7 separate regions of the Homo sapiens genome follow, and all the other regions are linked to region 1. Evidence: fine-mapped QTL for protein levels in blood plasma. Region 1 holds a variant in brackets. A gene starts in each other region. All regions are shown on their reverse strands. Region 1 has its middle 14 kb from the start of ASGR1. Region 2 holds the start of TNFRSF21 (TNF receptor superfamily member 21). Region 3 holds the start of CD86 (CD86 molecule). Region 4 holds the start of ICAM3 (intercellular adhesion molecule 3). Region 5 holds the start of LY75 (lymphocyte antigen 75). Region 6 holds the start of DPEP1 (dipeptidase 1). Region 7 holds the start of CD33 (CD33 molecule).

What was found. PIP is the posterior inclusion probability: the model's chance that the variant is causal. The UK Biobank Pharma Proteomics Project read protein levels with antibody pairs (Olink). The fine-mapping took linkage between variants from a reference panel, not from the people measured, so its PIPs are less certain.
Region 2: it holds the start of TNFRSF21, and the variant in region 1 is fine-mapped to the plasma level of the TNFRSF21 protein (UK Biobank, PIP above 0.99).
Region 3: CD86 starts here. The variant in region 1 is fine-mapped to the plasma level of the CD86 protein (UK Biobank, PIP above 0.99).
Region 4: ICAM3 starts here. The variant in region 1 is fine-mapped to the plasma level of the ICAM3 protein (UK Biobank, PIP above 0.99).
Region 5: it holds the start of LY75, and the variant in region 1 is fine-mapped to the plasma level of the LY75 protein (UK Biobank, PIP above 0.99).
Region 6: it holds the start of DPEP1, and the variant in region 1 is fine-mapped to the plasma level of the DPEP1 protein (UK Biobank, PIP above 0.99).
Region 7: it holds the start of CD33, and the variant in region 1 is fine-mapped to the plasma level of the CD33 protein (UK Biobank, PIP above 0.99).

Annotation. Positions count from the first base shown.
Region 1 is chr17:7,163,761-7,167,826 of GRCh38, reverse strand. No RefSeq gene overlaps it. Among named protein-coding and RNA genes, the nearest start is that of ASGR1, 14 kb to the left of the region's middle. The variant C/T (reference allele first, on the strand shown) is at 1,734.
Region 2 is chr6:47,307,521-47,311,586 of GRCh38, reverse strand. It overlaps TNFRSF21 (TNF receptor superfamily member 21), which reads left to right and starts at 1,682. Exons shown (of 6, transcript NM_014452.5): 1 at 1,682-2,171. The coding sequence starts at 2,076. RefSeq lists enhancers at 1,420-1,714, 1,666-1,845, 2,009-2,731 and a silencer at 1,986-2,215.
Region 3 is chr3:122,053,521-122,057,586 of GRCh38, reverse strand. It overlaps CD86 (CD86 molecule), which reads right to left and starts at 2,225. Exons shown (of 7, transcript NM_175862.5): 1 at 2,084-2,225. The coding sequence starts at 2,097. It also overlaps a transcript of ILDR1 not described here.
Region 4 is chr19:10,337,693-10,341,758 of GRCh38, reverse strand. It overlaps ICAM3 (intercellular adhesion molecule 3), which reads left to right and starts at 2,135. Exons shown (of 7, transcript NM_002162.5): 1 at 2,135-2,220; 2 at 2,811-3,077. The coding sequence starts at 2,145. RefSeq lists enhancers at 537-1,284, 1,285-2,032, 2,126-2,175, 2,396-2,495, 2,781-3,529.
Region 5 is chr2:159,903,238-159,907,303 of GRCh38, reverse strand. LY75 (lymphocyte antigen 75) reads left to right here and starts at 2,548. Exons shown (of 35, transcript NM_002349.4): 1 at 2,548-2,715. The coding sequence starts at 2,622. It overlaps LY75-CD302 (LY75-CD302 readthrough), which reads left to right and starts at 2,548. Exons shown (of 38, transcript NM_001198760.1): 1 at 2,548-2,715. The coding sequence starts at 2,622. RefSeq lists silencers at 2,346-2,587, 2,357-2,816 and enhancers at 2,997-3,076, 3,217-3,266, 3,487-3,536, 3,587-3,636.
Region 6 is chr16:89,611,771-89,615,836 of GRCh38, reverse strand. It overlaps DPEP1 (dipeptidase 1), which reads right to left and starts at 2,195. Exons shown (of 11, transcript NM_001389466.1): 1 at 2,118-2,195. RefSeq lists enhancers at 1-326, 327-1,031 and a silencer at 2,437-2,595.
Region 7 is chr19:51,223,283-51,227,348 of GRCh38, reverse strand. It overlaps CD33 (CD33 molecule), which reads right to left and starts at 2,269. Exons shown (of 7, transcript NM_001772.4): 1 at 2,194-2,269; 2 at 1,751-2,131; 3 at 1,268-1,546; 4 at 993-1,040. The coding sequence starts at 2,230. The region is part of intron 2 of LOC107985327 (a long non-coding RNA gene); the gene reads left to right.

The DNA of each region.
Region 1 (4,066 bases):
GAGGCCACATTCTTGCTAAAAACACAGGATTCTATTTTGTAGAGAAGGAGTCAGTAAACTTTGGCCCTCACCTGCTTCTGTAAATAAAGCTTTCTTTTTCTATTTTTTTTTTTTTTTCTGAGACGGAGTCTCTCTCCGTTGCCCAGGTTGAAGTGCAATGGCACAATCTCGGCTCACTGTAACCTCTACCTCTCAGGTTCAAGCAGTTCTCGTGCCTCAGCCTCCCAAGTAGCTGGGATTACAGACGTGCACCACTATGCCCGGCTAATGTTTTGTATTTTTTCTTTTTTTTTTTTTTTTAGTACAGACGGGGTTTCACCATGTTCGCCAGACTGTTCTCGAACTCCTGGCCTCAGGTGATCTGCCCATCTCAGCCTCCCAAAGTGTTGGGATTACAGGTGTGAGCCACCACACCTGGCCAGTTTTTTTTTTTTTTTTTTTTTTTTTTTTTTGCAACAAGGTCTGGCTCTGTCGCCCAGGCTGGAGTGCAGCGGCGTGATCTTGACTCACTGCAGCCTCTGGATCTTGACTCACTGCAGCCTCTGCCTTCCAGGCTCAAGTGATCCTCTTGCCTCAGCCTCCCAAGTAGCTGGGATTACAGGCGCAAGCCACCATACCCTGCTAATTTTTGTATTTTTTTGTAGAGACGGGGTTTCACCATGTTGCTCAGGCTGGTCTTGAACTCCTGTGCTCAAGTGATCTACCCGCCTTCGCCTCCAAAGTGCTGGGTTACAGGAATGAGCCACGGATCCCGGCCTGTAAATAAAGTTTTATCGGAACACAGCCATGCCTGTTTGTTTACATGTCATTTATGACCACAGCAACAGCAGAATTGAGTAGTTATGATAAAGACTGTATGACCTGGTAAGCCTAAAATACTTGCTATCTGGCCCTTTATAGGAGATGTTTCTGGACCTCTGGTGTAGCAAGAAGGGGATAATTGGTATTAGGGGTAATTAGAAGCCTCCGTTATAGTGCTATTATTGCTGTTCAGCATCATCCTGGGCATGGTAGCCAAACTGCACAAGACAGAAAAAGACATTAAAAGTTGTAAGAATTGGAAAGGAAGAGATAAAACAATATGCTCACCTATACAGAAAATCAACACCATCAACAAACAAACAAACAATTCGACCTAATAAGAGGCTTCGGCAGGTGTATTAGTCTATCACCACAATAACACATGAAGAACATACAAGAAGAAACTTAAATTCTTTCCAAATTAACATATACATTCAACGCAATAAAAATAAAATTTCAATTGATTTTCTTTTTGAGATGGATTCTCCCTCTGTCACCCAGGTGGGAGTACAATGGTGTAATCTCACCTCACTGCAACCTCCGCCTCCAGGTTCAAGCGATTCTCCTGCCTCAGCCTCTCAAGTAGCTGGGAGTACAGGTGCCCGCCACCACGTCCAGCTAATTTTTGTATTTTTAGTAGAGATGGGGTTTCACCGTGTTGGCCAGACTGGTCTTGAACTCCTGACCTCAAGTGATCCACCTGCCTCAAACTCCCAAAGTGCTGGGATTAGAGGAGTGAGCCACTGCGCCCGACCTCAATTGGATTTTTAAAAGCAATGCAACAACTTTAAAAAAAATATATGTGGCAAGATAAAAGTCAATATGGGAAAAAAAGGAGAAATTGGAGGAAGGGGGAACTAGCCTTATTAGACTTTAAAATATATTACAAAGCCATAGTAATAAAAATAGCACAGTAATGATACAAGAATAGA[C/T]GGATAAACCAATGTTATAGAATAAAGAGCCGAGAGACAGAACTGTGCCTACATGGGAACTTAATATACAATAAAGGTAACATCTCAAATTGGTAGAAGAAAGACATTATTGGGAAAACTGGCTCACTCTATGAAGATAAGTAAAACTGGATTCATACCTAACATCACAGGCAAAGGTGGATGTTGGATAGATTGAAGACCTAAACATATAACATAAAATTACAGAACTAGTAGGAAAAAAGAAAGAAAGAAAAATCTATACTACTAAGAGTATAGAAGGGTTTCTTCTTCTTCTTTTTTTTTTTTTTGAGACAGAGTCTTGCTCTGTCGTCAGGCTGGAGAGCAGTGGCGTGATCTTGGCTCACTGCAACCTCTGCCTCCCAGGTTCAAGCAATTCCCCTTCTTAGCCTCCTGAGTAGCTGGGAATACAGGCATGCGCCACCACGCCCAGCTAATTTTTCGAATTTTAGTAGAGACGGGGTTTCACCCTGTTGGCCAGGCTGGTCTCCATCTCCTGACCTCATGATCCACCCACCTTGGCCTCCCAAAGTGCTGGGATTACAGGTGTGAGCCATCGCGCCCGGCTGAAGAGCTTGTTAAATAAGGCCTCCGAAGCACATTCCAAAAAGCCAAAAAAAATTTGTGAAATTGCATGAAAATGATAAATTTCAGTTCAACAGCAATGTATCAGGTAGGCTCCCAGCAAGCAACAGATGGCACACCCAAAAATGGGTAAGTGCAAGATTTCATAATATAGGGACTCTCTGCAAAGGTGTGAACAGGCTTAGGGAAGCCACAAGATGGAGCAAGAACCTAGGCATCCCAGAGTGGGGAGCTGTTACCACCTCCAGGACCGCAGGGAGAGGGCCTCCCAACAGGAGCTGTGATACTCAGTTGCAGGGGGCAGCTAACCCACAGCCACTCTACAGGGAGGGGCCGGGGAGTTAATATCCTCACTTCCCTCTCTTCCTGGAAGAGGGCTGGAAGCCAGATGGCAAGGGAGCGATTTGATGCAGTCATACAGCTCAGCCTCCCAGGCCACAGAACAACATGGAGAAGGATAGAGTGTGGATCTGGAAGGACAAATGGAAGACATTCAACACAGAAGGAGACCAAGATGAAGAAATACACAGGAAACCTATTGGAAAAGTGGCATCAGGTATAAACAAGCAGTTCACAGATGAGGAAGCCTGGGGTTCTAATGTGCATATGAAGACATGTTTACAATCACTAGTGACTAACTAGAGAAATCAAACACGAGTGAGCCATCTGTTTACACCCATCCAATTGACAAACATTAAGAGGAAGTCAATTGCTGCCAAGGTTGTGGGAGAAGCTGCTGATGGGAGGATAAATTGGAATAGCCATTCTGCAAGATATTTACTGGAATTAAGAATACATAGTATCAGGACGGGCACGATGGCTCACGCCTGTAATCCCAGCACTTTGGGAGGCCGAGGCGGGTGAATCATGAGGTCAGGAGTTCGAGACCAGCCTGACCAACATGATGAAATCCTGTCTCTACTAAAAATACCAAAATAAGCCGGGCATGGTGGCGTGCGCCTGTAATCCCAGCTACTCAGGAGGCTGAGGCAGTAGAATCGCTTGAATTCGGGAGGTGGAGGTTGCAGTGAGCCGAGATCGAGCCATTGCACTCCAGCCTGGGCAACAGAGGGAGACTTTGTCTAAAAAAAAAAAAAAATGCATATTATCGGCCGGGCATGGTGGCTCATGCCTGTAATCCCAGCACTTTGGGAGGCCGAGGTGGGTGGATCACTTCAGGTCAAGAGTTCTAGACCAGCCTGGTCAACACAGTGAAACCCCGTCTCTACTAAAAATACAACAGTAACAACAAAAATTAGCTGGACTTGGGGGCGGGCACCTGTAATCCTTGCCACTTGGGAGGCTGAGACAGGAGAATCGCTTGAACCCAGGAAGCAGAGATTGCAGTGAGCCAAGATTGTGCCATTGCACTCCAGTCTGGGTGACAAGAGTGAAACTCCGTCTCGAAAAAAAAAAAAAGATGATCCCTGAAAATCCTACTTCCAGATACATACACCAGAGAGAATCTCTGACAGGTCCATTATGGGGCACTGTGAAGATGTTCACTGCAGTGCTGTTTGGGTAGCAAGGAGCTGGAGGCAGCCTGGGTGCCTACTGAGAGCAGAATGCGGGAAACATGTCTGATGGGCTACTATCCAGCATTTAGGACTCGCCTGTAATCCCAGCACTTTGGGAGGCCAAGGCAGGCGGATCACCTGAGGTTGGGAGTTCGAGACCAGCCTCACCAATATGGGGAAACCCCGTCTCTACTAAAAATACAAAAAATCAGC
Region 2 (4,066 bases), not on the chromosome of region 1:
GGACTAAATAAAAACGTATTTGAAGCTCCTCCTCCTCTTTAATACCTATGTAACTTCTTAAAAAAAAACAACCCAACCTTATAATAGTATTGGCCAGTCATTTGAATTTTTGAAGAAAAAATTGATACAGTTATGCATGAAAACACAGCATCTATCCCTCACTCTTTCAACTTCTGAAAATAGCTAGAGAGTGGCAAGTCCAACCATCATCCTTTCCCCAAAACTCCATAATTAATGGTAATATTTTCTAGAACTCCTTTGAATTTCACTAGAGGTTATATATTGTAGCTTTTTTCCCACTCTAACATTTATAGACAATACTGACAAATGTTTGAAATAATAGATTGGAATTAACCCTCATATTAATTTTAGCTTCTACCAAAGTGTGCATAGAGCAAAGAATCAAAGGACAACATGTTAACTAATAAAGCAAATAATTGGTACCTATGACTTAGCAAGTTACCTTTATTAGCACTGGGTGTTGGATCTTGAAACTGATAGTTTAAAAAGTGTGATTCTTTTGAAATGGGACCAAAGGAGCCTAGGATAAGCCCAGCACCATAGGGCTCCCAATTGAGGGGTGTGGACTGGATGGCTGAAGAGGTAATATCAATACAGTGTGCCATGTGCTGTCAGTACCTAGATGATGGATAACACGATACCAGAAATGGTGGCCACAGTCAGGAGACTCGGCCTTCCCCCAGGTGAAACAAAGAAAAGGATAACAGCTGCTCTCTTACATTCAGAAGTGTGTGAGATACCAACATCCACGAGAATATTCCAGTTCTCCTTCTGAAGCAGAATACTACCTATTCTACCACCCACATCCTGACAAGGCCTTTGGAAATCAACTCAAAAATTTTTAGCATTATTTTTTGGGGGAAGGGTGATTAAAAAAAATCTCAGGGATAATCCGATTCAAAACTCTTGATTTTTAAATTAGGAAAATGCATCTTTTGATACATTTCAAGGAGTTCAAAAGTCCCTCCAAGACCATCCATGGACCCAACACCAATGACTCTGGGTTTTAAATCCTTTTAGTTTGGATTTCCTTAATTGCATTCATAAGCCCATATTAAAATTAAAATATAAAAAATTAAAATCTTTGCCCCATATTAAAATCACCCTGAAAACTTAAAAAACAAACAAACAACAACAACAACAAACCTCAATGCCCAGACCAGATCCTGTCCTGTTCCAATTAAATCAGAGTCTCTAGAGGTGGGACCCAAGAATCAATATATATGTTTTGAACTCTCCAGGTGATTCCACAGGGCAGCAAAGTTTGAGAAGCAACACACAGGTCTCCTTTTTCGTCACGCAGTTGATCTAAGTGCTCTGTGGTCTATTCACCATCGCTCTCTGATTTAATCATCGTGTCCGAAACAATGGAAAGGCGTATGTAGCTGAAATAATTTAGTTGGAATTATCTCGGAAAAAATAAGTAAAGTTAGATCAGGAGTGAGATGCTTTCTCAGCGCTTTCCCTGGGTCAACAGGCGCGTGCAATTTCCTCAGCGAACGCCAAGGGGCACCCTCTCCCTCCCCGCTCTACCTGGAACGCCTTCGCCTTTCCAACCGCACAAAGAGCCCGGCCTCCTCCCGGGTGACATCACAAAGGGCCGGTCCCCCGCCCCTTCGGCGCCACCACGTGTGTCCCTGCGCCCGGTGGCCACCGACTCAGTCCCTCGCCGACCAGTCTGGGCAGCGGAGGAGGGTGGTTGGCAGTGGCTGGAAGCTTCGCTATGGGAAGTCGTTCCTTTGCTCTCTCGCGCCCAGTCCTCCTCCCTGGTTCTCCTCAGCCGCTGTCGGAGGAGAGCACCCGGAGACGCGGGCTGCAGTCGCGGCGGCTTCTCCCCGCCTGGGCGGCCGCGCCGCTGGGCAGGTGCTGAGCGCCCCTAGAGCCTCCCTTGCCGCCTCCCTCCTCTGCCCGGCCGCAGCAGTGCACATGGGGTGTTGGAGGTAGATGGGCTCCCGGCCCGGGAGGCGGCGGTGGATGCGGCGCTGGGCAGAAGCAGCCGCCGATTCCAGCTGCCCCGCGCGCCCCGGGCGCCCCTGCGAGTCCCCGGTTCAGCCATGGGGACCTCTCCGAGCAGCAGCACCGCCCTCGCCTCCTGCAGCCGCATCGCCCGCCGAGCCACAGCCACGATGATCGCGGGCTCCCTTCTCCTGGTGAGCGCTTGCGTGGACCGGGGGTGGCGGCGGCGCCGGAGCAGAAGGAACCGCTCTCCGGGAGCCGGGCGGGTCACCGGGCCGGGGCTTAGGGAGGCGCGGGGCCCGGCCGACTGGGTTACGGGCACTGAGGGGTTTCCAAGGGAAGGCAACACACCAGAGGGCCTCGACTAGGTTATTTGGGGGAATCTCAGGGCTCAGCCGGGGCTGGGGAATGAAGACGAATTGTTTTCCTTGCAGTCTGGCTTTGCTGGAGGAGACGCTAGAGGTAGCCGCCCAGCTTCTGCGCATTTGAGGGCTTTTCCCCCTACTCGGCCTACCTCGCGCTCCCCACGCCCGCAGCCACAGCCCCCCACCCATCGGCCACTGCCCCTCTGCGTGGTGTGGGGCCTCGCCGCGGTGTGGGGCTCCCACGGCCGGCCGAGGCCGGCGCTTTGTTGCAGCTGCAATGTCATGTCGGGATGCTACCGCAGTGGAAGACAGTGGTACCGGTGCGCGCCGGACACCGGAGACCTCCGGGTGCTGTCGCGCGGTGCATTCCCGAGCAGGGCGCAAGCCGCCCCCTCCTCAATCCCTTTACCCTCTCTCTTCCCTCTTGGCTCGGGTGGGGTCTCAGGTTCTGTATGCCGAAATATCACCCTTAGACCCACTCTCCGGCGCCTCCAAAGCGCCGGCTTCCAGCCAGCCAGCGCGCCGGCACTGGAATGGGGGGAGGGGGAAGGAGATGTGTGTGAAGGAAGATGAATTTTCTACAGTCTTTCCGATCCCTCGTTTACCTGTGGCTAGGCAGGTGACCCTGCAGGGTGGTGCAGTCTCCCTCATCGTCTAAGCTGCATCCACATCTCGGGTCAATCATCTTGACCAAAAACTTACCCTCAACTTCCCCCAAATTCCCTCCCTTTATTTCCAAATATTGGGGTGAAGGGGCAAGTTAGGTGGAAGAAAATTTGAGATCAAACCCTTGAGCTTCCCTTGCCTATCTTTTATCACTGCAGGAGGGATGGAAATTCTTAGCTAAAAACCGAACAAAAAAACCCCCAAGAAACAAGAGCTTGTTTTCACGACAGGGCTGTGTAAGGGAAAAGCAGGCTTGCTGTCTCCTTCCCCAAAAGGGCTTAACGCCTGGCCAGCCAAGAACTGCTTAGATCTCAGGACATTGCAGTTGCTATGGCCTGGGAATTCATCCTACAGACACTCTGGTTCCTTGTGTGTGTGTTTTAAGAGGAAGAGAGAGACTAAATAAAAGTTTGTTACTGTTAGCATTTATAATGAGGCAAGTCCCAGTCTCCCTTCAGAAACTCTTTTCTGCCCACTTATTAATGGCATGGCCAAGGTTTATATCTTTGAAACAAGTGAAACAAGTGTGGTGGATGGTAAGCAGTAGTCGGGGAGTCTCTTGGGACAATGAACCTGGATTGACAGTCTTGGTGTGGAGAGAAACACATCTAGGTCCATGGGAACACTGATCCTAGTTCAGTGGAGTGAGAACTATCATCATTTCCTTTTTCACAGCTTTAGATCCACTACTATCCACTACTATGTTTCAGGTGCTTCTAACACATCTGATTATTATATGCCTCACAGAGTCCATTCCCAGATTAAATCTTAAGTCATTGTGCAATACTCCATTTATTTTACCTTTTAGCATGAGGTAGGTAATTAAACAAAGGTCTTGATGTAATCAAATGGTAGGTTGCCTTAACTAACTGAGAAAGGGCCCAGCTCCTTTTCTTGAATCATCAGGCTAGGCACCCTGGCTTATGCCTGTAATCCCAGCGTTTTGGGCGGCCAGGGTGGGAGGATTGCTTGAGTCCAGGAGTTCGAGATTTGCCTGGGCAACATAGTGAGACCCCATCTCTACAAGAAATTAGGTGGGTGTGGCGGTGGTGTGCGCC
Region 3 (4,066 bases), not on the chromosome of region 1:
GCCTACAGATGGGATTCAAATTGAAAAGCACACAGTAGAAAATACAAACTACCTATATTTCTGATTAATATTGTTTGTATACATGTATCATGTATAAAAGTGATAGCACTGTTCGTTCTGCATTTTTCCCCTTTAACTAAACACATTATGAATTGTTCTACAGTGGAATTTTAAATAATTACATGGTATTCCATTATGGATGTTCCATAATCATCCAATCACTTGTTTTTAAACACGTAAATTGTTTCTAAGATTTTCCTTATTAGAAACAATAGCAAGAAAAATATCCATCACTAAAACTTTACAAACATGTATTATTATATCTTAGAATAAATTCCTAAAAGGTGAATTGCTTGGTTAAAGGGCATATACATTTTAAAGGCTTTTGATATGTATCACTAGATTATTGTCCAGAAAGATGATATCACCACTAGTGCGCAACTAGGGTACAAATAATCCTCCCTTCTTAGCAAGATAGAGGGTTCTTGATTGCTTGCTTTTTAAAACTTAATATTTATCTCTTTGATAGAGAAAAAATGATACTTCACTGTTGTTTTAATTTGTATTTATTTCATCTCTTATGAGAACAGACATTGTTTAATGGCTATTACTGGTTCATGACCAATCTTCAGGCACTGTGAAACAAAAGGAATCTTAACAAGTTCAATATAGACAGCAGCCTATGGTTTTTTAGACCTCTGCAGACAGTGCTAGCATAATTAAGTAGTATCCCCTCTATGGTACCACAAAAATTATAAATTTTGAAATTCTTTTTTTCTTCATACAAGTATAACGCTTCAAAATTCCACTGGAGCAAAAGGAATCTTTACTGGAAAATTAAATTTTAATCTTCTGAAATAAAAGCAACAAAGCTTTTTCTCAAACCAGTAAGCACTGGGTAGATGAAAGTTACTTCGATTTTCAAAGAACAGTAATTATAAATACATAGTGACGGCCGGGTGCGCGGTGGCTCACGCCTGTAATCCCAGCACTTTGGGAGGCCGAGGTGGCCAGATCACAAGGTCAAGAGATCGAGACCATCCTGGCCAACATGGTGGACCCCGTCTCTACCAAAAATACAAAAATTAGCCGGGCGTGGTGGTGGGCGCCTGTAGTCCCAGCTACTCAGGAGACTGAGGAAGGAGAATCGTTTGAATCCGAGAGGCGGAGGTTGCAGTGAGCTGAGATTGCGCCACTGCACTCCAGCTTGGCGACAGAGCGAGACTCTGTTTCAAAAATAAATAATTAAAAATAAATAAATACATAGTGACTGGCGCCAGCTGCCACCACCCAAGAGAAGGGCGGGTGTGACTCCTTCCAGGAAGTCTCCACAGCATGGAGAAACCTTCTGGCGCACCACGAAGCGGGCAGGAAAGATTTTAGCTCTACCCCTTATGAATAGTGTGAACTTGGGCAAGTTTTTTAAGCCACAGTTACCCCATCTGTCAAAAAGAATGATGATGTCTTTCCAAAAGTCATTGTGAAGAATAAAATTCAATGAAATAGCACTAGTAAAGTACCCAGCACATCATGCATGTTCAATACATGGTAACTAATTTAATCACTCTACCTCCTTCCACTACCCAACCCTGCCCAGAATCTCCCATGGCCTGATTATGACATATTAACTGAGTTTTGCATTTTCTCCTTATACCTCTTTTTTCTCTTTCTTTTTCTTGATCTCTCTCCCTCTACCTTCTCTATCTCATTCCTCCACCCTCAGACCAAACTGACCCTGGTAGACAAAAAACATATTCCCTGTTATTTGTCATTCTTATGCAGATATTTTAAAAATTCCTGATTCTTCACTAAAATCAATGACTGTAACATTCAGTATTTGAATAACAGATTTACAAAACCAAAATTAGGCACCTAAAAATATATATAACTACCACCAATGAACTGCTTTGGGCATTGCAAATAATTCTTGCCTTTATGTGCCAAAGATCTTTTGTAGAAAAAGAAAGCTTCTCCACTTAGGAACTAAGTGAAGGACACACATCAAAGCACCATCTTCAACCTCAGCCTTTCACTGCAGTCACAACTCATAACTTCTCTGCAAAGAATAAGAATTATTACTCACCACTGGGGATCCATTTTGGCTGCTTCTGCTGTGACCTAATATCTGGAAATGACCCCACTCATCCGTGTGTCTGTGCTAGTCCCTGTTACAGCAGCAGAGAAGCAAAGCTTTCACCCTGTGCAAGCCTTCCTCGGCAATGACTGTATACCTACCCAGCTAACTTTCTTTAAGAGAAGCTGTTCCTCTTTTCTCTACAGATTTTGACCACACTTGAGGAAGAAATTTAACCCTTTCCTTGCAGTTTAAACTCATTGACGTAGGTCTATATGTATTAAAGAATATATAATTCAGTAGCTTGAGTTCCAGACATGACGTTAAGATGAGCCTGAATAAAAAATCTCCCCTCTTGAAATTCCCTCAAAAAACCTAGAAAATAAAATAATTAGAAAGAGAAAACAAACCTCCGCAGCAACAAAATAGAATAAAGAGGCATTCTACAGATTTTGATAAGATAATAAAAAGTGATTTATTGTGGATGTGGATTGGGAGTGAGTAGCCACCTAACCCTGCCAATTTCCACAACCAAAGTGTGGAGAGTTTCACTGAGCTGGGGTGGGGGGATGGGAGATGGGGAGATGTTCTGTAAGGACTGCATAACCAAGGAGGGCAGACAGAAGCTACTGCTTTTATTATTTCATTCCTACTATAGCCAAGGATTACATTGATGAAAGCGAATATTCTGAAACAGAAGTCTGAAAAAAAGGCAGCATTATAAAATTAATAGATGTCCCTAAGAGACAAACATAGAATTAATCAAGCAGAAACTATACTAGAAGATATTTCCTCGTATGAATTAAAATGGGCATCATCTAGAAACTCAAACTGTTTAGTGTATCAAAGCAAAAGTTATGAAAATCGATTCTCATCCAGACAAATCATTTTGAACATTTTAAATTCCAAAGGCAAAGCTAAAAACAAAATGAAAACAGAATGACTACAGAGAAACAAAAAACAACTTGGCATCTTACTCAACCCTAAATGGCAAAAAACAACAGAACAATATCTGCAGAATTTTGAATTAGCATTATCTACCTAGATAAGATGCCAGTTAAGTGTCAAGTCAATAGAAATATGTCACCAAGCAGGCAAGAAAACAACAACTGCAACAGAAATACCACCACCAAGACAGCCTTCCTAAATAAATTATTTAAGGATATATTCCAGAATAATAAATGAATTAAAATAGCCTTAAAATGGAGAAGCCATGGCTGAAAACACCAGTGCTGAGCTTTAAAGCAAGTTAAACATGGAGAAATAAGGCTAAATAATTATAAATTAGTTTAGACCAAAATGCTAAATAAGAAAAACTTATTAGAAGTAGATTACATATATTATTTCAAGGAAGTTTAAAAATAGCAGATGACATCACTGCTAACTAGAGCAAGGAAGCAAAATCAACACAATTATTAATCTTCAAATAAGAAGATAGAACAATGATTATTTTATCAACTTTGATAATTTCATCTGGATTTGAGAATTTTAAAAAATGAAGACAGCAATAATATAAGTTATCTATCTTCAAAATTATTGCAGAGCAGGAGTGCAAATAAAATAGTATTTATAACTACATAACACATCAGAAATAAGATGAGATAAAAAAATCCATGTAAACCTCATTTGTTATAAATATTAAATATTAAAGGTATGGGATGTCATTTTTCAGTTTCTTGGTAGCAGTGTACACACTCAAATTTCCATTTCTTGGTATCAATGCATACACTCAAATTTTTATTTAAGATAGCATAAGCATTTTCTCCTGTTATCATAAACTTTTTAGTAGTCATTAAATAGTACATTAATAGTACATCAAGTATACACTGTGAAAGCTGGCTGTAATGGCACATACCTGTAATCCTGGCTACTCAGGAGGCTGAGGTGGGAAGATTGCTTGAACCCAGGAGTTTGAGAACATCTTGGGCAACATAATGAGACCTTGTCTCATACACACAAAAAAGGTATATATTGTAGTAAAATTATCTTCCT
Region 4 (4,066 bases), not on the chromosome of region 1:
TGGTCTCAGCTCCTAGGGAGGCTGAGGTGGGAGGATCACTTGAACCCAGGAGGCTGAGATTGCAGTTAGCTGAGATTGTGCCCCTGCACTCCAGCCTAGGCGACACGGTGAGACTCTGTTTCAAAAAACAAAAAAGAAATATGACTTATTTACAAATATTTCTTTCTTTTTTATTTTTAGAGACAGGGTCTCACTATTACGTAAGTATTATAAATTATATATATATGTTTGTTTGTTTGTTTGTTTTTCTGAGACAGAGTCTTGCTCTGTCACCCAGGCTGGAGTGCAGCGGCACAATCTCCACTCACTGCAACCTCCGCCTCTTGGGTTCAAGTGATTCTCCTGCCTCAGCCTCCTGAGTAACTGGGACTACAGGTGCCCGCCACAATGCCCAGCTAATTTTTTATATTTTTGGTGGAGATGGGGTTTCACTGTGTTAGCCAGGATGGTCTCGATTTCCTGACCTCGTCATCCACCTACCTCAGCCTCCCAAAGTGCTGCTAGGATTACAGACGTGAGCCAGTAAGTCCGACATCTTTTTTTTTTTTTTTTTTTTTTGTGGAAACAGGGTCTCACTGTGTCTCCCAGGCTGGAGTGCAGGGGCACAATCTCGACTCACTGCAGCTTTGACCTCCCAGGCTCAAGCGATCCTCTCACCTCAGCCTTCCAAGGAGCTGGGACTACAGGCACCAGGCCCATGCTACTGGTCCCTGCTGTTTACAAATACACTAGACTTGGGTTTTAGCTGCTCTCTCAACACCAGGTGGGAAATGGATTGTTCGGAAGGTAGAGGAATAGAGGAGGGACCTGCTTAGGAAGGTGGGGGTGCTCTAGATGAGAGAGGAGGTGCTGTGACCTCAAGGTCTGGGGAAAGTGGGTGAGTGCAGGGCCCCATCAAGGCTCTCAACAAGGCCTCTCTCTCTGGAGCTCAGATGTGAAGCCCAGAAGGCAGGTCAGAGGCCTGAGGTCAGAGGCAGGTCAAAGGTGGGGGTCCCACCTGGTCCCCTTGGCGCCTTCCCTTGGAATGCAGTGACCAGCTGCCTGGAAGGGTGGGCAAGGGGACAACAGGATGGGGTAAAGGCCAGTTACAAGTAGAATCCTGGAAGGCCGGGCGCAGTGGCTCACGCCTGTAATCCCAACACTTTGGGAGGCCAAGGCGGGCAGCTCACTTGAGGTCAGAAGTTTGAGACCAGCTTGGCCAACATGGTGAAACCCCGTCTCTACCAAAAAGTACAAAAATTAGCCGGGCGTGGTGGCACATGCCTGTAATCCCAGCTACTCGGGAGGCTGAGGCAGGAAAATCGTTTGAACCCGGGAGGCAGAGGCTGCAGTGAGCCGAGATCCCGCCACTGCACTCCAACCTGGGTGACAGAGTGAGACTCTGTCTCAAAACAAACAAACAAAAACCAAGTAGAATCCTGGATAGACAGTGGCTCAGGGACTCAGCTGTCCCCAAATCACCTACCTTAGCTCTTTGTGCAGGGGATGGGGGATCCCCAAGATCTTCAAAGATAGGGAGGTATCCTCAAGATCTTCAAAGGTGGCCAGGCGTGGTGGCTCACGCCTGTAATCGCAACACTTTGGGAGGTCAAGATGAGAGGAGGCCATCTTAAGGCCAGGAGTTCAAGACCAGTCGGGGCAACATAGCAAGACTCTGCTTCTGTTTCTGTTTTTGTTTTTGTTTTTTAATGTTTCCTCGAAATCCCACCTTAACATCTACACAATGGTGCCTACAGTTTTCCCCATTAACTTCCTCTCTGGGGACAGAATATTCCCCTACCCACCTAAGTTCAGCCAGAAGGAGATGCCTCATCCCCCCCACCCAGGCTTCCCAGTGCTGAGAACAAAAGAAACCAGTTTAGTTAGCATTTCCTGTGAATTCAAATGGGGGCCAGCAGTGCAACTGGGACCAGCCCATTCCCTGGGGGAGACTCAGCAGTGCTGGCCACTTTGCAGAGCCCCGTCTGGGTCCCCCACCCTGGCCCCCAAGGGCCACAGCATCCCCTTCCACCCACAGGCCTGGGCAAGGTGCAGTCCCCAGACTTCTGCAATCTTAACCGCTGTGCTTCCGTCGCAGTGGGAGGCCCCGCCTTTTCCCCTGCCTGCCCTTCGGGCACCTCAGGAAGGCACCTTCCTCTGTCAGAATGGCCACCATGGTACCATCCGTGTTGTGGCCCAGGGCCTGCTGGACTCTGCTGGTCTGCTGTCTGCTGACCCCAGGTGAGACCAGTCAAGCCGGGGAGGGCTGGAGAGGGCTGCGTTTTGGGGATCAGTAGAGGGTAGAGGAATAGAACGCAACGCTGTTCACATCCTGCCACACTGCGACCTGGCCGCTGACTCTGTATCCTCGGGAGAAAGTTCTGGTTCCTTAGTTCAGCCTTCAGGTGGTCAGGCCCCAGCATAGGCTTGTACGCCATCCCTCTCCCCTAACACACACACACACACCCCTCATGCTTCCTGCTCCATCTGAACTCCTGAAATTTGCCCTTTGCGTATGTGCTTCCCTCTGCCAGGATCACCTGTCCCTTTCACTTGCTAACTCCTACTTAGCCTTCAGTTTCGGGCTGCAATGGTCCCCGCTTCCAGGAAGCCTTCCCTGACTCACCTCCTCCTATGCTGGATCAGAGCCTCTTCTGGCCTCCTTCTGAGTTCTCCCCGGTCTCTGATGGATTCTACCTTTCCCACTGGACCATGAAGGCAGGAACCCTTCTGTCTCGGCACAAGGAGAGAGGTGTTAAATGGTGGGGCCTGTTGATGCGTGGGTTGGGGGACAAGGAAACAAACACCAGGACTTCTTCATGTTCCTGAAGGTGTCCAGGGGCAGGAGTTCCTTTTGCGGGTGGAGCCCCAGAACCCTGTGCTCTCTGCTGGAGGGTCCCTGTTTGTGAACTGCAGTACTGATTGTCCCAGCTCTGAGAAAATCGCCTTGGAGACGTCCCTATCAAAGGAGCTGGTGGCCAGTGGCATGGGCTGGGCAGCCTTCAATCTCAGCAACGTGACTGGCAACAGTCGGATCCTCTGCTCAGTGTACTGCAATGGCTCTCAGATAACAGGCTCCTCTAACATCACCGTGTACAGTGAGTCGACGTGTCCGGAGGTGGGACTGGTCTTGGGTAGTGGTGTGGGCAAGTGGCCAATGGCTCAGGAGAGTGGGGACCCTCAGTTTGCAAAGAATGGACCACAGTTCTGACCCAGAGCTCAGACCTGGACATTTGTGTGTGAGATACAAAGATAGACAGAGACAGAGACACAGAGACAGAGACAGAGATATAGAGACGCATCTCAATCTCATGCCAAGGCAGCAGTTGTGAAATCAATTAACTTGGGCCCCAACAAGCATTTTTTTTTTTTTTTTGAGACAGAGTTTCGCTCTTTTTGCCTAGGCTGGAGTGCAGTGGCACGATGTCGGCTCACTGCAACCTTCGCCTCCTGGGTTCAAGTGATTCTCCTGCCTCAGCCTCCCGAGTGGCTGAGATTACACATGCACGCCACCACACCCAGCAAATTTTGTATTTTTAGTTGAGATGGCATTTCACCATGTTGGCCAGTCTGGTCTTGAACTCCTGACCTCAGGCGATCCGCCCACCTCAGCCTCCCAAAGTGCTGGGATTACAGGCATGGGCCACTGCGCCCGGCCCCAACAAGCTTTTTTTTTTTTTTGAGATGGCGTCTCTTACTCTGTAGCCCAGGCTGGAGTGCAGTGGTGCAATCTCGGCTCACTGCGACCTCTGCCTCCCAGGTCCAGCTAATGCCCAGCTAAGTTTTGTATTTTTAGTAGAGACGGGGTGTTCCGCCCACATCAGCCTCTCAAAGTGCTGGGATTACAAGTGTGAGCCACTGCGCCTGGCCCCAACAATAATCCCAACACTTTGGGAGGCCAAGGCAGGAGGATTGCTTGAGTCCGGAAATTTAAGACCAGGCAGAGCAATATAGGGACACCCCGTCTCTACAAAAATAAATAAAAAATATTAGCTGGGCATGGTGGCACATGCCTGAAGTCCCAGCTACTTGGGGGACCAAGGTGGGAGAATCGCTTGAGCCCAGGAGTTCAAGGCTGTAGTGAGCT
Region 5 (4,066 bases), not on the chromosome of region 1:
AACAAGAGTGAAACTCCATCTCAAAGAAAGAGAAAGGGTCAAATTGTAGAGGTACTTGCTTTTTGTCTTAGAGTTTTCTTTTTGTATCATGGGCTTCTCTGGGATTCTCATGAAAGCCTTGTACCCTTCCTCCTCCTCCTCAAAACATAGTGCATTTATAAAGCTGCATAAAATTTCAGGGTTTCATAATTTCCCTTAAGTAGCATTTAGGAGCTCCTGCTATATGCAAATAGCACTGAAAGGATTTGAGTAGAAAAGTGGCATGTTCCAAACAGTGTTTAGAAGGATTCATTTGCCAGAGAGGATAATAACTGTTGGCAGTGAGGTCAATTGATAAATTATTGCAATATAATGCAAGTAGGAGCTCATATGGCCCTAGGCTAAGGTGGTGGCCCTAGGAATCCATCCATCGATTAAACTAACATTTATTGAGAGCTGACTTTGGGACAGGCCCTGTGCCCAGTGTTGAGGATGTGATAATGAATACGGCAAGACCACTGCCCTCAAGGAGCTCCAAGCTGGGCAGGATCAGAAAGAAAGGCAGGCAGCCACAGAGGCAGAGGGGATCAGGTCAGTGGCAGGTTCTCCTACTCAGAACTTCCCACCATCTGTGCCTTAGAATAAATTCAAGGCCCTTCACAAAACAGACACAACTCACCTTTCTGCTGTCATTTCCACTGGGGCCCCCACCACAACCACTTTGATCTCTCTCACAGACACACCCCCCGCAGGGCAGCTACCCTGGACTCTGGACTGTCTTCTGACTCTGCTTGCATTTTCTGGCCTCTGCCCTGTCACTGGTTTTCTCCCACCAGCTGTGCCTGCTCAAATTCCTACCCATTCTTTAAGACCCAGCTAAGATGTTGCCTTCCCTCAACATTTGTCAGAGTTTCCCCATTCATTCTGCCCTGTGTCACTGAGTGTGCCTGTATTAGGGTTCTCTAGAGGGACAGGACTAATAGGATACATGTATATATGAAAGGGAGTTTATTAAGGAGTATTGACTCATATGATCACAAGGTGAAGTCCCACAATAGGCTGTCTGCAAGCTGAGGAACAAAGAAGCCAGTCCGAGTTCCAAAACCTCAGAAGTAGGGAAGCCAACAGTGCAGCCTTCAGTCTGTGGCCGAAGGCCAGAGATCCCCTGACAAACCACTTTTATAGGTCTAAGAGTCCAAAAGCTGAAGAACCTGGAGTCCGATGTTCGAGGGTAGGAAGCATCTAGCACGGGAGAAAGGTGAAGGCCAGGAGACTCAGCCAGTCAAGTCCTTCCAACTTCTGCCTGCTTTTATTCTAGCCATGCTGGCAGCTGATGAGATGGTGCCCACCCAGACTGAGGGCTGGTCCGCCTCTCCCAGTCCACTGTTAATCTCCTTGGCAACACCCTCACAGACACACCCAGGAACAATACTTTGCATTCGTTCATATCAATCGAGCTGACAATATTATCCATCACAGTGCCTCAGTCTCCCCAGTATTCAGGGGAGGGCAGAGATGTTGTCTTTTTGTCCTTCTGTTCCATGGCGTGCCCAGATCCTGTGATGGCAGGTGCTCACTATATCTATGGAACTGAAAGGCCAGACCCTGGGGAGAGGACAGAGCAGGTTTGGGAGCCAACTGTGAAACCTTGGCAGTGGGAGTCAGGAAGAGCAACCTAGGTCTTTGCATCCTCATGCAACAAGGATGGAGGCCACCTCAAGTACACATTATGTGCTCAGCAAAGACGAGATTTAAAAGTATAAAACATTCACATTTGAGCAACTTAGGTCATTAAGAATTTGGCCTCTTTATAATGATAGCAGTGTCCACAGGAAGAGAGTGAGTGGGACATGAAATTTCTGGTTCTGCATGCAGACTTCTACATTTCTACCAGCTAATTATTATTATCATTAAATTATTAAGCAAAGAGCTTACTCGCAAAGGTCAACTTTTTATAAAGCATAAGTCATCCTTGGAAGTGTCGTTTGGTCATTCTAGTAATTCTTGCTTTTAATTCTTTAACAACTATGGGTAGAACTGCAGTGTACCATTATTCCACCTTTGTTTGCACTGTCAAAATACCCAAGACGTTGCCAAGGACGACTGAATTCTTAGGCTTGGCCGCAGCCACCCACAGGGCAGGTGCTCACTTCCTCCTCCGGGGTAGAAGAGATCATGGGTCCCTTTCCAGTCCAGGCTGGAATGGAGAAGTCGTCCCTGACCACAGTGCGCCAGGCAGAGGCCAAGGTTCTAAACTGATAGAACCCACCCACCAGGGCGGTGCCAAGTCCCAGTAAGGGCCGCATCTCCCCAGCTTGGCTGATGAAGAGGCGGGGACCGAACCCTCCAGTGCAGGAGCCTGTCTGGTGCCTGGCTCTCCCACCGATCCGCACGTACCTCTTCCTCGCGGGTCCTACCCCACGCAGGTATCTAGCGCCCAGCCCTGTTCATTTCCCACACCTGGCCCGCTCCGCCCCGGGGCCGAGGAGACGCACGTCTGATTGGCCGAGGGCGGCGGGGGCGGGGCCGGGGCGCCCCCAGAGGCCTAGACAGAGGTGCGGGCGGGGCAGGCCGCGCTCAGCAGGCGGGGCGGGAGCCGCGTGCGCCCGAGGACCCGGCCGGAAGGCTTGCGCCAGCTCAGGATGAGGACAGGCTGGGCGACCCCTCGCCGCCCGGCGGGGCTCCTCATGCTGCTCTTCTGGTTCTTCGATCTCGCGGAGCCCTCTGGCCGCGCAGGTAACCGCGGGCACGCCAGCCCCGCAGTCCGCTGGGTGCCTCGACGCCACAGCTCTGCTGCCTTCCAGCCTGGGGCAGGGCTGCGCCCCTGGGGCAGGTCACGGCTGCTTTGCTGTTGGGGCGGGGGGGCTCTGGAGCCGGAAGAGTGAGTCGCAGGGGAGGTCTGGCAGAGGAAGCGCCCCAGTGCCCTCGGGGGCCCGGAGGAGGGCGCGGTGGATGTGGGAGGACAGGGCCCTTCTGGTGCAGAGGGGACGCGGTGCACCGTAGAGTAGGCGCACGGAGGCTTTTTTGGCCGGGTGCGCTGCTCCATCGTCGCCTCTCTTATATAATGTTGCTGGAGTATGGGGTTCCCCATCTGCCCTCTTGCGTCCCGTCCCTCCCGTTCTCGCTTTTCCTTCGGCCCTTGGTCACCTTGGCCACAGGGCCAAGAGGAGCCTCCACCCACAGCGCCAAGGATTCCCCACGATTCCCGGATTTCACTGCGCCTACGGTGCGCATCAGGAAGGAAGTCAGGTTAAATAAACCATCTCCTCCGAAAGTGACCAAGACCAAGAGTCAGCTATGATGCCCTCACCCACCGCCTAGAGCAACAAACCTTTCTTCTCATTGGTTTATCAGCTCCAAATGACCCCGCTCCCCCAAGGCTGACAGCCTCACGGTGAAGGGCAGGTCGCCTGCTTGGGGACCTGCTGCCTCTCACTGCGGAAGCAGGACCAGAAACAGACAGCCTTCATTGATGTTCAGGGTAGTGCCAGCCCCACCACACCACACCCCTTGGCAGCAACCGGTTGCTTTTACTTTCTCTTTTTGCCTGGGCGAGGGGTGTGCAGAGAACTTTGTTTCTTGGTTGGACTGCATCATGGGCACTCAATGGGCCACCCTCCACCGGCCACTTCTGTTATCGTGCCTGTATGAGGAAGGAAAAGATTGTCCAGGCAGTTTGAAAAACATTAAATTGTTGGTGGCTCTTATTTTCTTTGCAGCTAAGCTAAGTTACCATCTGGTTTAGACTTCCTTCGGAGAGCGATGGGAAGAGATTTCTCAGAGTGTGAATGGCATCATCCTATCTACAGCAAGGACCTGGAAATGAACCCTGCTCTGAGTCACACTTCTCTATTCTCCTTTGACCCTGTGTGCTAGGAACTACCAAAAGAATCCTTTAAAATAAGATCCTTTATTGCCTTGATAATTTATTCTGCCTGCCCCACAATCCAAGGTGGAAAAGTTCACTGCAGCAACTAACTACAGTGAAAATGCACTAACTTTTCAATCACTAACCTCTTGGTTCCCATCGACATCTGCTTCAGTCCTGTTTTTATCTCCTTCACAAATTTCAGGATTTCCCTAATTC
Region 6 (4,066 bases), not on the chromosome of region 1:
TCTCCAATTCACACCCCACCAGCCGGCCAGGACCCCGGGGCCCCCGTGTTGACCGCCTGCCTGGCTGCTGCAGCTCCTGCCCTCTGGTGGCCAAATCCCAACGTGCCTCCGTGGGGCCGGTTCCCGGCTCCAGTTCACCGGGGCCTCGCGGGGTCCTGCAAGGCGGGGTCCTGGGGGCTCACTTCACCCAAGAACCAGCTGCTCCTCCCTCAGGGTGGGCTCTGCCTGTGGGCTCTGAAGACCTGGGAAGGCTGAGCAGGTGCTCGGAGCCACCACTGCTTCCATGGGTGTCCTGCCCTTTAACCCACGCCCTCACCCCTGAGAGCAAGGCTGCTGTTACCCCTGTCTCCTACTCTTGGAAACTGAGGTAGAGAAGACAGGTCCAGCCCCCTGGCTCATGGGAGATGGAGCCAGGATGTACGCACAGGACACAGGTCCAGAGACTCCAGAGCTGCGTGTAGACCAGCACCACTGCCCTGCCAGGCCCGCCTGCCCGCTCTGTACCCAGTGGGAGCTGGGAGCCTCAGCCCGACCTGTGAGGCCACCCCTCAGGGGCGGCTCTGAGAGGCCGCTTTGGGGCTCAGTGTCCGTCCACCGCAGCCTACGTCCCCCTGAAGCTGCAAGCAGGGACTGAGGGACCCTCCCCGTCTGCTCCTGGCCTCCGACTGGAGATTTGTCAAAGCTGACCTTTTGTCGACAAGGAGACTGAGGCCCAGCGGGAGGTATTTTAGAGACACTTCCACGTTTGGAGGCCCTAGATGCCCCCTTCCACCCATGACACCCACTGAGCTTCTCCATGGGGTCAGACGCCAATCAGCAAGAATTCGCCAAGAGATGTGGAGGCTACTAGACCCTCACCATGAAAATAGCTTGGCTGTGTAAGAGCCATTGGCCGAAGTAGGTTCTGCCCTTCGCTAGCCCAGCCGCAGCTCCAGACTCCAACTTCCGCCTGTGCCCAAGGCTTTCTCTCTAGCATGTCCTGTGATAACCCTGAAGCTCCCCGCACCCTACCCGGGGAGAAGATTTTTCTTTTATTTTTTTGGATACGGAGTCTCGCTCTGTCACTCAGGCTGGAGTGCAGTGGCACGATCTCAGCTCACCGCAACCTCCGCCTCCCGGGTTCACGCCATTCTCCTGCTTCAGCCTCCCGAGTAGCTGGGACTACAGGCGCCCGCCACCACGCCCGGCTAATTTTTTGTATTTTTTATTAGAGACGGGGTTTCACCGTGTTAGCCAGGATGGTCTCGATCTCCTGACCTCATGATCTGCCCACCTCGGCCTCCCACAGTGTGGGGATTACAGGCGTGAGCCACCGCGCCCGGCCACAGCTTTGATTTTCATTCAGCAAATCCTTTCCACCTGGAAGGAAATTGTGGGGCCGGACAACAGGCCCTGCTCTTAGCTGGGCGGGAAGGCAGATGACTGCGCAGAGAATTCCAGAACAGAGAGTAAGTCCGGGGACTCGGCGCTCCTCACACAGCCTCTGAGAACTCTTCCTGGAGGAAGGGGTACGTGAGCTGAGTCCCAAGGGTGCCTAGGACCGCACTGGGCGCCACAAGGAAGGAACAGCCGGCACAGTGGACAAGCGGGGTTGTGGGGCCTCTGGAGGGCCTGGCGGGTCCAGACCTCATCCTAGGGACCACGGGGAGGGCCAGTGGGAGGACAGCGGCGGGTCTGAGAGCAGCTCTCCCACCTCCTTGAGTCCCAGGAAGCCGCCGCGTCCCCTGCCCCACACACCTGGCCCCAGTTTCCTAGAATCCCAGGAAGCAGCCGCGTCCCCTGCCCCACACACCTGGCCCCAGTTTCCTAGAATCCCAGGAAGCAGCCGCGTCCCCTGCCCCACACACCTGGTGCCAGCCTCCTAGAATCCCAGGAAGCTGCCTCGTCCCCTGCCCCACACACCTGGTCCCAGCCTCCTAGAATCCCAGGAAGCCGCCCCGTCCCCTGCCGCACACACCTGGCCTCAGCCTCCTAGAATCCCAGGAAGCCGCCGCGTCCCCTGCCCCGCACGCCTGGTCCCAGCTTCCACCCACAGTGGTGCCCTGGGGTCCCCGGGCCTGCACCACCCCAGGTGGGCACCCCAGTACCCTGGCGCACCGACTCCCCAGCCCACTCACCCTGGCCTCTGCGATGCAGACTTGCTCCCTGGCAGGGCCCGGCCTAGGCAGCTCCCACGCCAGGCTCACAGCTGGGCTGGCCCTACCCGGCCACCTGCTGCCCCTCCCAGGCCCCTCCTCAGGAAGGTGAAACTGCCCCATTTCCTGCAGGAACCCTGTGTTCTCTGAAAGTAGAAAGAGGAGGGAAATGGAGGAGGGGAGGGGAAGGTTGGAGAGAAAGGGCCAGGGGTCGGAAGGAAGGGCTGCAGGAGGGAGAGAGGAGGAGGGAGAGAGGAGGAGGGAACTTTGCTCCAGGAGATGGCTCTGCGTCCTGACCTCCCCCAAGGCTAGAAACTTCTCCAGCAGCTTCCTCATTTCCTGAGAGTGCCCTGAGATGTCCTGGCAGTGTTTTTCCCTCATGTGTGGATGTGCCACCTCCCAGCCAGGGGGGTGCGTGCACAGCTGTGCTGTCCAGCTCTGTGATGTCAGATCTTAGAGAATGCTACACATCAGTACACATAAGCCATCTGTGTCCTTTTTCTCATGCATTTTCGTTGTGAAAATACAACATGTATACCAACAAGACATATAGGTGTTGGGAGGGAAACTGAGGCAGGGCTTGCATGATGTCCTTTGGAATGTGTCTAGACTTGCTGGCTCCTTCCTTCTAGCCCTCCTAGGCCCCTATTCCCATTATCTCAAGTAGCAGAACATGCTCCATATAAATGCTAAACCGGCACAGCTGTAATCATGTGCTTAATGCAACGTGGTCTTTTGACCTCCATATTCTCACCATCTGTTTCTTTGTTGCATTACCAATAAATACCGTGGGCTCCCAGAGCTCGGGCTTTTGCAGCCTCCACAATAGCGATGGCCCCCTGGTGTGCCACCTTTCTCTCTCTGTGTTTTTCTGAATCCTTTGACTCCGCCGGACTTTGTCACCCCCACGACCTGGGGTTGGGTCTGATCACCCCAACATATAGGTACTGTACCTTTACACAGAAACTACACAGGTGTTCGTAGCAGGACAATTTAGTATAGCCAAAATGTGGGAAGAGTGCAGATGCCCAACACGGGGACAGATAAATGTGTCTCTTCACGCAGTGGAGTATTACTCAGCCATGAAGAAGAGTGACGTGCTGACACGTGCTATAACATGAAGAACCTCAGAAACATTTCGCTAAGTGGCAGAAGCCAGATAGTCGGGTGTGGTGGTGCGCACCTGTGGTCTCTGCTGTGAGGCTGAGGCAGGAGGAGCGCCTGAGCCTGGGAGACTGAGGTTACAGTGAGCTGCGATCACGCCATTGCACTTCAGCCTGGGCCGCAGAGTGGGAGCCTGTCTCAGAAAAGAAAGAAAGAAGCTAGACTCAAAAGACCACATGTCGTGTGATTCCACTTATATGAAATGTCCAGAATAAGTGACTCCATAGACACAGAAGGTGGATTCATGGTTGTTGAGGCTGTGAAGGAAAGTGGGGAGTGGGTGCTAATGGGAATGGGTTTCTATTTGGGGCAATGACTTTTTTTTTTTTTTTTTTGAGACAGAGTCTTGCTCTGTCGCCCAGGCTGGAGTGCAGTGGCGCGATCTCAGCTCGCTGCAACCTCCACCTCCTGGCTTCACGCCATTCTCCTGCCTCAGCCTCCCGAGTAGCTGGGACTACAGGCGCCCGCCACCACGCCCGGCTAATTTTTTGTATTTCTTTTTTAGTAGAGACGGGGTTTCACCGTGTTAGCCAGGATGGTCTCGATCTCCTGACCTCGTGATCCGCCCGCCTCGGCCTCCCAGTGTGATACCCAACCTTGTTTTAACCTAAGTGACCTTCTCGTAGCAGAGAGAGCGCCGGACAGACTCCATTTTAGTTTCTTCACCTGCAGCCCCCTTCACCTCCCTCCCTTAAGGCTTAACTAGTGTGACTGACTCAAAGCACGTCTGGGAATGCACCTACTGATAAGATACTGAGGCAAGCTGC
Region 7 (4,066 bases), not on the chromosome of region 1:
TCTTATATACTTTTGACCAGAATGTAAACTAGTATAACCACTATGGAGAAGAGTATGGAAGTTTCTCAAAAAACTACAAATAGAACTACCATATGATCCAGCAACCCCACTACTGGGCATTTATAGAAAGGAAAGGAAATCAGTATATTGAAGAAACGTCTGCACCTCAATGTTTATTGCAGCATTATCCACAATAGGAAGATATGAAATAAACCTAAGTGTCCAACAACAGATGAATAAATAAAGGAAATGTGGCGTATATACACAATGGATTATCATTCAGCCATAAAAAATAATGAAATCTTGTTATTCACTATAACATAGATTGAACTAGAGGACATTATGTTAAATGAAATAAGCTAGGAACAGAAAGTTGAATACCACATGTTCTCACTCATAAGTGGAAGCTACAAGAAGTTGATTTCATAGAAGTAAAAAGTAGAACAGAGAATAATAAGGGCTGGGAAGGTTAGGGGAACAATGATAAGGAGAGAGATTTGTTAAAGGATACTAGATTACACCTGGAAAGGAAGAATAAGTTCTGGTGTTCTATACCACTGTAGGATGACTATGCTTAACAATAATAGATAGCTTCAAATAGCTAGAAAGGGGATATTGAATGTTCCCAACAACAATGAAATAATAAATGTTCAAGATGATGGATATGCTATTACCCTGATCTGATTACTATACATTATTAGTATGGAAACATCACTATGCCATCCATAAATATGTACTATTATTACATATCAATTAAAAATAAAATACCCCAAGACATTCAGAGACAGGAGGGAGACAAAGAGCATTATTTGGATGGGCAAGGGGGAAGTTGCTAGTCATCCCCAAATATCCTTTTCCAAGGTGCCTGATGTCTACCCGTGTCTAACTGCAGGCCTTGCCTCTGAACATTTGACTCTGAAAGTCCAGATCTGACCAAACCTGACACAGACTCAATGTCAGTAACAGCCCCAGGCGGGGAGGCTCCTTCCTACCTGAGCCATCTCCTGGAAAGATACCAGTTGTTGGGTTCTGTGGAACATCTAGGAGAGGAAGAGAGGATTTCCTTCAGTTGGGGGTAGAGATGAGATAAGGGTAGGCATTTCCCCTTACTCCTGCCAGAAACCACAGAAATGCAGAAGGGACAGGGCTCATGTCCTTCTGGCTCCCGAACTCAGCCAGGCCTCCAGGACACTAAATGTCCCCAGCACCAGCCCATCCTGTCTCCCCTACACCCTCAGGGACCCCAGCATCCTGGCCCAGCACTTACAGGTGACGTTGAGCTGGATGGTTCTCTCCGTAGTCACACCAGCTCCAGCGAACTTCACCTGACAGGTCAGGTTGGTGCCGTGGTCCTGGGGCCGTGGGGTGATTATGAGCACCGAGGAGTGAGTAGTCCTGGGGCCCAGGGAGGTGGGGGCAGCTGACAACCAGGAGAAGATCGGGGGTGTTCCCTGCTCACAGGCCCAGGACACAGAGCAGGTCAGGTTTTTGGAGTGGCCGGGTTCTAGAGTGCCAGGGATGAGGATTTTGGGCCTGTGGGTCAAGTCTAGTGAGGAGAAAGAGGGGATGCAGAATCAGGAGGGAGGGTCCAGGTGAGGGCCTGAGAGAAGATCAACCTCTGGTCAAGCTCCCCCGCTAAGCACGACAGGCTTTACCCCTAAACCCCTCCCAGTACCAGGGTCCCATCCCAGCCCTGCCCTGCAGTACCCATGAACTTCCCTTGCGGCCACTTCTGAAGCCTGTGCCTCACCTGTCACATGCACAGAGAGCTGGGGAGATTTGTAACTGTATTTGGTACTTCCTCTCTCCATCCGAAAGAAGTATGAACCATTATCCCTCCTCCTGGCGTCTACGATGCTCAGGGAGCAGTTGTTCCTACTGGGATCCCCAAGGAGGCGGAATCTGCCCTGAGTCTCCTCCTGTACTTCTTGATCTAGCTTGTTTGTGGCCACTGGAGAGTCCCTGGATATAATGGCTCCTTCCCGGAACCAGTAACCATGAACTGGGGAGTTCTTGTCGTAGTAGGGTATGGGATGGAAGAAAGTGCAGGGCACGAGGACGCACAAACCCTCCTGTACCGTCACTGACTCCTGCACTTGCAGCCAGAAATTTGGATCCATAGCCAGGGCCCCTGTGGGGAAACGAGGGTCAGCTCGGCCCAGCCCGACAACCCCTCTCCCCACAGCCACTCACCTGCCCACAGCAGGGGCAGCAGTAGCAGCAGCGGCATGTCTGAGGAAGCAGCTTCCAGGGCTTCCTGTGTGAGCAGAAAAGAGGAAGGGAGTGGAGGGGAAGGACTACAGGGCCGGACAGGAAGCTGGGGAGGAGCAGGAGACCTCAGCCCTGCATGGAAGAGGAACCTCAGACCCACACATGCTCAGAGCTTGTCCCCTCCACACAGATTGACCCTCATGGGCCAGAGATGCCAGAGACCCGCCCAGAGATGGGAGGAGATGGAGCAGAATCTGAGTCTTGCCTTCCAGGAGCACCAGAGCCTGGATCAGTACCTTCAGGGCCATCTGAGACATGCGAACCCCATGTCTAAAGTCCTTCCACTCTGAGGTGCTTTTCTGTGCACAACTGTTTACACCAGGGCTGATCACTGCTGGCCTGGCCCGAGTCGCAGCCTCACCTAGATCCATGGGGTGTTTAGTCCAGCAGGATATAGGATTCTATAGGGTCCGTGTGAGTGTCTGGGGCAGAGAAACAAAGAAGAGTCCTAGGTAAAGTGAAGGTGGCAGCCATTCATTTATTCATTCATTCACTAAAGATATAGTGAGTGACAGAGCAGGAGCACCGTCATCTCGGAGAAACACTGCCTCTTTAAGTTCCAATTTCCTTTCTAGCCTCATGCATTTCAAGGAAATCACTTCTCTGCTAACTACAAGCAACCAGAAAGAGCAGACAGTGAAACACAGATAAGACAGCTCGGGCACAGAGGGAGGTAGGGGGAGAGTCTCTTGAGTTACTGCCAAACTTCACCCTCATACAATGGCCCTAGTAAAACAGTGGGCCTTAATAAGCAAATTCCTTTCCCTTCAGGTGCACTAAGATAGGGAAGCTAAAAGCAGACTCAGTGGGTATGCCTGTAGCTGCAGAAAGATGTATGGGTACAGACACACACCTCTCTCTCCCAGATAAGCACAACAAAGAGACTCAGAAGCAGTCCAAGTCTCTGATAAACTCTCCCACCCTAAATCCTTAAAAACTCTTAGTCTGTAAGAGAGTGTGCCTCTGACTTAACTCGGCCAGAAACTCCTCTCAGGTTTGTTTTCTCTAAAATCTGTCTTGACTGGTGAGCCACCATTCGTGTTTCTTTCCTCTTTCTTTAATTCTTACAGTGAGCCTTTGTGTATAGGTGGGGCTTGAGAAGAGATGCCACTGACCTGATTCCTGCCCTTAAGATACTCCCCATCCATAGCCTCATGTCCTCACCACACACACACATGCTGTCTGGCTTTAGAGCTGTGAAAAGTTGGGAATTTGCCATGTATCATGGTAGCATATTGGAAATTTTAAAAGAAATATGACTATAGAATTTTCCCCTGGCACCTAGTACACTGATTTGCACAGTGTCAATGACATCTCCAAAACAAGAACCATGCAGCATCTTCCTGTGAAACAAAAGGGAGAACACATGTTCTATGAACCAGTGCAGAAAAAACTTCTTTTCCATTCATGCTGCCATTTGGTTCAGTGTGGGCAGAAGCAAGTTTTTTTAGAGGCTCATCATATGGATCAACATTTTCTTTCATGTAAAAATCTGCTTCTCACAGTTAAATATGGCCCAAAGACATAATATTTCCAGACAACATGAGTGGAGTGTACAGAGAAAATTAAACTTTAGGTCCAGCTACATGGTTTTCCATATCACTCTGTGTAGTATGCATCCAGCAAACCGTTGATCCCTGGGACATATTAGTACTTGCCACCATACCTTTGTCAAATCTCTACACACAATAGTATCTAGATAACTCTTCATTCATCCTTACTAATAGAGAGGTAGCTGCATCCTCATTTGATATACAACAAATTAAGTCTCCAGTAAATAATATCTGTTGTAAGT